2 linked regions of the Homo sapiens genome follow. The protein of the gene in region 1 interacts with the protein of each later gene in a biochemical or structural test. Each region holds a gene or a part of one and is shown on either strand. Other genes may lie near its edges.

Evidence for each region.
Region 2: the proteins of CDK19 (region 1) and WDR77 form a complex in vitro, tested with the Homo sapiens proteins (one study listed by BioGRID).

Annotation. Positions count from the first base shown.
Region 1 is NC_000006.12:110,808,676-110,812,698, forward strand, and holds part of CDK19 (cyclin-dependent kinase 19), read right to left. Parts: intron 1-4,023.
Region 2 is NC_000001.11:111,439,390-111,442,823, reverse strand, and holds the end of WDR77 (methylosome protein WDR77), read left to right. Parts: intron 1-62; coding exon 63-171; intron 172-694; coding exon of another isoform or gene 695-730; coding exon 731-799; intron 800-1,434; coding exon 1,435-1,594; 3' UTR 1,595-2,934; downstream 2,935-3,434. UniProt on the Homo sapiens protein: Non-catalytic component of the methylosome complex, composed of PRMT5, WDR77 and CLNS1A, which modifies specific arginines to dimethylarginines in several spliceosomal Sm proteins and histones.

The sequences.
Region 1 (4,023 bases):
TGTCTACTTCATTTACTAAGTGTTAAAGATACTTAATTTTTTACCATAAACCCATAAAACCAAAATTTGTCCTAAAATGTATTTAAATACTGGTATTTTCTAAGCATCTCTATAAAATAGCTAGTAAAAGCACAGAAGACAGATTACTAGTCTAGCAATTCTAAAAGAGCTGGCCTAAGAGAAAATATTTATTTCTCAAAAATATGCCTATTTTCCTTAGCAATATCTAATATCTGTTCAAAGAAATGGGGCCAGGCGTGGTGGCTCACACTTGTAATCCCGGCACTTTGGGAGGCCGAGGCAAGTGGATCATGAGGTCAGGAGATTTAGACCATCCTGGCTAACACGGGGAAACCCCATCTCTACTAAAAATACAAAAAAAAAAAAAAATTAGCCGGGCATGGTGGTGGGCGCCTGTAGTCCCAGCTACTCGGGAGGCTGAGGCAGGAGAATGGCATGAACCCAGGAGGCGCAGCTTGCAGTGAGCCGAGACTGCGCCACTGCACTCCAGCCTGGGAGACAGCGAGACTCCATCTCAAAAAAAAAAAAAAGAAATGGGCCAGGCACAGTGACTCATGTCTGTAATCCCAGCACTTTGGGAGGCTGAAGCAGAAGGATCACTGGAGCCCAGGAGTTCGAGACCAGCCTGGGCAACACAGTGAACACAGTGAGACCTCGTCTCTACAAAACAACAACAAAAATTAGCCAGCACGTGCATCTGTGGTCCTAGCTACGCAAGAGCCTGAGGCAGGAGGATCACTTGAGCCCAGGAGTTCAAGGCTACAGTCAGCTACGACTGCACGACAGCACTCCAGCCTTGGTGATAGAGTGAGACAGTCTCAAGTGAAAAAAATGAAAAAAGAAATTTATCAACTGTTTGGAAAAGCAGTACATTTCTTAGAAAAAATACATTAGAAGTATTTACATCTAACCACCTATTTCATATAACATTACTGTATTTCAGGCTTTCAAAGCAATTACTAAAAACTTCGTTTTTTAAGAAAAGTAAATAAACTTGCGTTTTTAAAGGAATTTGGTCTGCTTTTAAAATCAGTGGAGCATCTTTACCAATTAAAGGCATTTTTAATTGAATATAATTTTGTGTATTATGTGACCAACTCTGTACAAGGCACTGGACAGAATGATGATCCTTTTGCAGCTAGTAATTTATGAGGCATATTAGTATCACTTACAGTGACTTTACATATGTAAGAACAAAGGGGTAGAAACACAGCTGAGGAGTACACCGAGTGATTAAGAGAAGGCTTCAAGGAGGAAAGCTATTTGAGTTGGGTATTGAAGTATGAGTTTTACAGGTTTGTAAGGATAAGGGAAAAGGGGGAGGGAAGAATGGCACAGCAACACCATTCTAAAGTGAATGTAGAACAAAGAAAATGAGACATGAAAGGACTTAAGTACCAGAAAATACGAGTTCAATGCTACAGAAGTATATAGCTTAAATGCAACTGGAAAAAAGAAATGGTGGCAGGTATAAAGACTACAGACTTCAGGGTCTGAATGTAAATGTCTTTACATGACAAACTAAGGAATTAAAATTGGATCTAAGTCTCAAGTATGAATCATGCAAGGAGAGAAGAGAAAGAGATGAGATTGGATCTGATAGTATAAGCCATAGCAAACGTATAGCTTTCCAAAAAGAGATATGACATGATTGATTTTATAGGAAAATGACACTAGCAGCAATTTGGATCTTGGACTATAGTGAGAGACCAACCAGCTACTATCCAAATCAGAAATAATGGCCAAAAGTGTTGACAGTGAGGATGAAGAAAAAAACAGATGAAAAGCAGCAGCATGGCCAGGTAAGGTGGCTCACGCCTATAATCCCAGCACTTTGGGAGGCCGAGGCAGGTGGATCACCTGAGGTTGGGAGTTCGAGACCAGCCTAACCAACATGGAGAAACCCCATCTCTATTAAAAATACAAAATCAGCCAGGCGTGGTGGTGCATGCCTGTAATCCCAGCTACTCAGGAGGCTGAGGCAGGACAATCGCTGGAACCCAAGAGGCGGAGGTTGCAGTGAGCTGAGATCGCACAATTGCACTCCAGCCTGGGCAACAAGAGCAAACTCCATCTCAAAAAAAAAAAAGAAAAGAAAAAAGAAAAGCAGCAGCTACATGTAGTAGAATCTACAGTCCTGCACTCCCACTTTGTAAATGTCCTGTATATGTGATAATTTCCCTTTTCCATATTTTTTTTTGGTATAAATGCACTTTTGGCATGCAAAAAGGTTTATACAGTAAGTTATCAAGACTGGAGGTAAGATGGCCTTTTTTTGTTTTTCCTCCCATGGTATTAGGAAGGAAAATGCAAGAACTCTTGAGTTAGATGTGGATTACAGGCTATCTCTGCTGTGACACTATGAGCATGACAGTTAACCTCTCAAAGCTCTAGGTTTCTCATTTGTAAAAAGAGGAAATTGAACTAGATGATCTAAAACTTTGGAAAGTTCTAATCCTCTGATGATACTGACAAATCTTTAATCTTCTGTAAGTGTCCAACAAAAATGCAAATACAATAATCTAACTACAAACCGATTGTGAAAAACCCATCAAACACAGGCAAATACTATTGTACCTATTAGCTATATGCATCTACATGTACTCATTGTGAAGAATTTCATGACATACATTAAGTTATGTAGTCATCAACCACTCATTTGAAACCCTGACAAAACAAACTCTGTAAGCTGTGTCAGCCATGCAAGGCACCACGCTCGGCTAATTTTTGTATTTTTAGAAGAGACGGGGTTTCGTCTTGTTGGCCAGGCTGGTCTCCTGGTCTCAGGTGATCCACCTGCCTCGGCTTCCCAAAGTGCTGGGATTAAAGGTGTGAGCCACGGCGCCCGGCCAACAAAAGAACTTTTTAACAATATTCCTTTATCGATCAAATTTTTAAATGTTTCTAACTGGAAAAATGCAGTCTTGAAATTTGTAACCATAAATTGTCATGTGCGACTTCTTAATAATGAAGAAAATTTATTTTATGAATTCTTGCTTGTATTAAAAAGTTCAGAAATATTCTGAACTTGTTTCTCTTCAAGAGTAACATTTGGCTGGGTGTGGTGGCATGAGCCTGTAATGCCAGCACTTTGGGAAGCCAGGAGTTCAAGACCAACCTGAACAACACAGCAAGACCCTGTCTGTAAAACGAAAAAACAAAAAAAGAACAACTTTTAAACCGGATTTTTTTTTTTTTTTAAAGTAAAAGAGAGTTGGAGGTCCAGCATGATGGCTCACACTTGTAATCCCAGCATTTTGGGAGGCTGAGACAGGAAGATCACTTGAGCCCAGGAGTTCAAGACTAGCTCTGGCAACACAGCAAGACCCGGTCTCTACAAAAAATATTCAAAAGTATAAATATTAAATAAAAAGGAGAGTTGGGTCAAAAGCCTCTCTTCCTGCAAAACAAAAAGGTGAACAAATAACTTTTTTTTTTTTTTGAGACAGAGTCTCGCTCTGTCGCCCTGGCTGGAGTGCAGTGGCGGGATCTCGGCTCACTGCAAGCTCCACCTCCCGGGTTCACGCCATTGTCCTGCCTCAGCCTCCCGAGCAGCTGGGACTACAAGTACCCGCCACCATGCCCGGCTAATTCCTTTTGTATTTTTAATAGAGACGGGGTTTCACCATGTTCACCAGGATGGTCTCGATCTCCTGACCTCGTGATCCACCCGCCTCGGCCTCCCAAAGTGCTGGGATTACAGGCGTGAGCCACCGCACCCGACCCAGAGAATATTTTTAATTAAAGGTGAAAAACTCAGATGTAAATCTTGCATTTCCAGCCTCTTATAAATTTGTGATATAATTAATATTGCCTAAAGTCATACTTCAAGGGAAATAACATTTTGCTAACTGTAGTATTAAACTTTTCTAATGATATTTTATTTCTTCTAATGTTTCTTCTAAAGACCTGAACAATGTTTTGGTTATATACTACATTATATATACCAGAATCATTTATCTTTAATGTAACCTATGTGATTTCTGGCTCCCTAAAATAGCA
Region 2 (3,434 bases), on another chromosome or scaffold:
CAAGTCTTTGGCACAAAAGTCCATGCTCTTAATCACTATGACATGTTCCTTCTCTTCTACAGGTGATGAGAATGGGACAGTCTCCCTTGTGGACACCAAGAGTACAAGCTGTGTCCTGAGCTCAGCTGTACACTCCCAGTGTGTCACTGGGCTGGTGTTCTCCCCACACAGGTACTGTTCTTTGTCATCAGGGGCCTGATGGGTATAAATGGGAACCGTGAGGGTGTGTGTGTATGTTTTCAAAGCATTAGCTGATGAAGTAGTTCCTTAAAGCAGACAGTGTTCTAGCTGAGGTTTCGGAACATCGAAGATCTCTTAAGTGTGAAGTAGAATCCTTTGGGAGTCAAAGGATTTTTCAGATTAGATGGTTTCTGTCTGAAATGGCTAAAATGTGATTTCATTCCTGCCCAACACCCAAAATGGTTAATGTTGTGGGCTTCTAGGACTGTGAGATTGGAAAAGCCTGTGTTTCTGGGTTATTGCTGAAGCTATAGAGAGGGACCAGATGGGGTGGTTAGTTGCCAGGATGGTTGTCAACCCTAACTTTGCTTCATTTCCCTCATCTTTACTTGAAACTTTTAGTGTGGACTTGTAGTAGCCAGATTAGCCAAAAGTGGGAATCAGGCTGCCTCTCCTGGGTCACTTTACAGTGGCGGCAGGGCCGGCCCAGTTAAGGTTTTGTCTTGGGATCCAGGCTGGACCTTTCACAACCCTCTCCTCCATCTGATAGTGTTCCCTTCCTGGCCTCTCTCAGTGAAGACTGCTCACTTGCTGTGCTGGACTCAAGCCTTTCTGAGTTGTAAGTGTGAAGTGGAATCCTTTGGGAATCAGGGAAGGGGAGCAGTGGGTGGGCGAGTCATTTTCCTCTTCAGAAAACTGTGTTGTGCTTTTGGAGAACAGATTCTCCATCTGTATCCGAAGGGACTTGGTAATGGAAGCAGGCTGGCTGTTGACCCTGTCCATTCCTGGGGCACATTCACAACCCCAAGGACAAGCCGTGTCCTTGGTAGAGGGGGGTGGTAGGTGAAATTTTTAAGTCTAGCCCTCCAGCGCTCTCCCACAAGGGGGCGGCAGTCTACCCTCTCACATAAAGAACTGCGTATGAAATGCAGCCTGCTACAGGGTAAAAGGCAGCACCTGGAAGACCTGAATTGTACTTCCCTCCTTGCCGTGATTTGCTGCCTGTTACTGCCCCTCATCACTGTCTTGTTCTATCCAGCATTTCTTCATCTATGAAAATAGAAGACTGGATTGGATGACTGATGACATCCACTGTGGATAGCTACACTGCTATCCTGGCGATGAGGCCATACAGTTGGTGAAATGTGTGTAACACACCCAAAAAATGTGCCCCAGATGTGTTGGGTTCTCTTTTTTTCTCCAGGTCTGCTTTTCTTGTCTCTACTCTGCCCCGACTTTTTTTCTTTCTTCTAGGTTTAGAAGCCAAGCCCACAGAGACTTTGTGAGAGATGCGACTTGGTCCCCGCTCAATCACTCCCTGCTTACCACAGTGGGCTGGGACCATCAGGTCGTCCACCACGTTGTGCCCACAGAACCTCTCCCAGCCCCTGGACCTGCAAGTGTTACTGAGTAGATTGGATTTAAGACAAAAAGCAAGTCCCCCATGAGTGTCCACTTCTTTGCCCTGCCCTCTCAGCTTGTGAGACAACACAGGAGCCTTCTATAGTATGTTGATATGCTAGATCTGTGCCGTTAATAGGCATCGTCTCTCAGCCTGAGGGAGGCTGGATTCTGGGTTCCTGTAGTCACAGGGAGGAAAAGCTTTCTTAAAAATGGACATGTATGTGCGTGTGAGTGTGTGTGTAGATTTATAGTTTTTGGTAGTGGCAGGAATAAAAAAAATCCATCCTACATCTTCCCTAAGCACTGCCTCTCTCTCACCCCCCAAAACAAGTTGACGAAAGGGTTTTATGTAGCTGTCTATGAGGAATTGGCCGTGTCTGGGTGGGTTATGGGATGTGGGCATCCCTGGGTTCTTGGAAGCAGCTCTTATGCTACTCATAGAGATGGGATTGACTTTATTTTTTTATAGTGCTTAATTCACCATTATGAGAAATGCTTCCAGTCACAAAAATGCAGCCCAGCTCACTCTGAGGAAGAAGCAGGACTTGGTACGGTTTTACACAACTCCTTACCATTAAACTGAATCAGAAATCCATTTTCTGGCTGAATAAAAAGTTTGGCTTGCCTGTGTAATGCCCACTCCCTTCCCCCTGGCTCCCTAGTGATGGGACATATATGAGAGAGAAGTGTTTTTCTATCATAGACACCATAGGGGAAAGTTTGGGGATGAAGGAGAGCTTAAAGGTGTTTCAATTAAGTTAGAAAACTGACACAGGCTGTTGAGAATTCTTTGCCACTTTTCCCACCCCAAAACAGCATGGGGCCTGACATCTTCTGCCCTGGTCCCCTTTCTCTTGATGTGGAAAGTCTGAATGCAGTATTTATAGACTTCTAAGGTTTTAAAATCCAGTATCAAGAAGAAAATCAGAAATACTGGTTGGTGAAATAAAGAGTTTAGGCATTGTTGGCCTGTCTTTTTTGAAGCATGTGTGTTATGTGTAGTTAGATATATTTCACTTATGTGAGTCATCATGGTGTTGGTCTTGTAGCCCATTATTTTTCCTGTGCTTCCCCAGCTTCCCAAAGTAGCTAGTTAGAACTTAAGGTAAATATTTATTCTTGGGTTGGTGGAGTGGATATTGCCAGTTAGGAGTCATGGATCAATTACTGATTATATTGAAAGTAAATATAATCAATTATGTACTTTTGAGCTTTGCAGGTTCAATTTAGGTAAAAATCACATTATGAAACTGGGAAAGTCTGAAGGAATATGGGCAAAATATTTCTCAGTAAAGCTTCCATGCTTCACCCTTGACATGATTACCCTTGAGTAAAACATGGGAATTTGTAGTTGTGTGATCCTCTGGCGTTGATGTGGAGTAGGAATAAAGTCTTGCATCATTTTTATAATGTGGGAGGAAATAGAATGGGTAGGTACAATCACTTAAGTTCTGCCTCTCGAAGATAAAACTTTAATTTTGTGGACACTTAGAGAAAGTAAGGGGTGGGGGAGCTTGAGGTGAGTAGGAATTTGCATAGCCCTTTTCTTCCTGGACTTAAGAATGATGGAGAAAAAACTCAGTGAAAGAGATAAGGAAGCAAATGTGTGGAAATGTGTGATAAGGAAGGAAATGTGTCAAGGTGGTTACAATATGGAAGGGAAGCATAGGTTTTTTTTTTCTTTTGTTGAGATGGAGTTTCACTCTTGCTGCCCAGGCTAGTGTGCAGTGGCATGATCTTGGCTCACTGCAACCTTCGCCTCCTGGGTTCAAGCAATTCTCCTGTCTCAGCCTCTTGAGTAGCTGGGATTACAGGCTAATTTTTGTGTGTTTAGTAGAGACAGGGTTTCA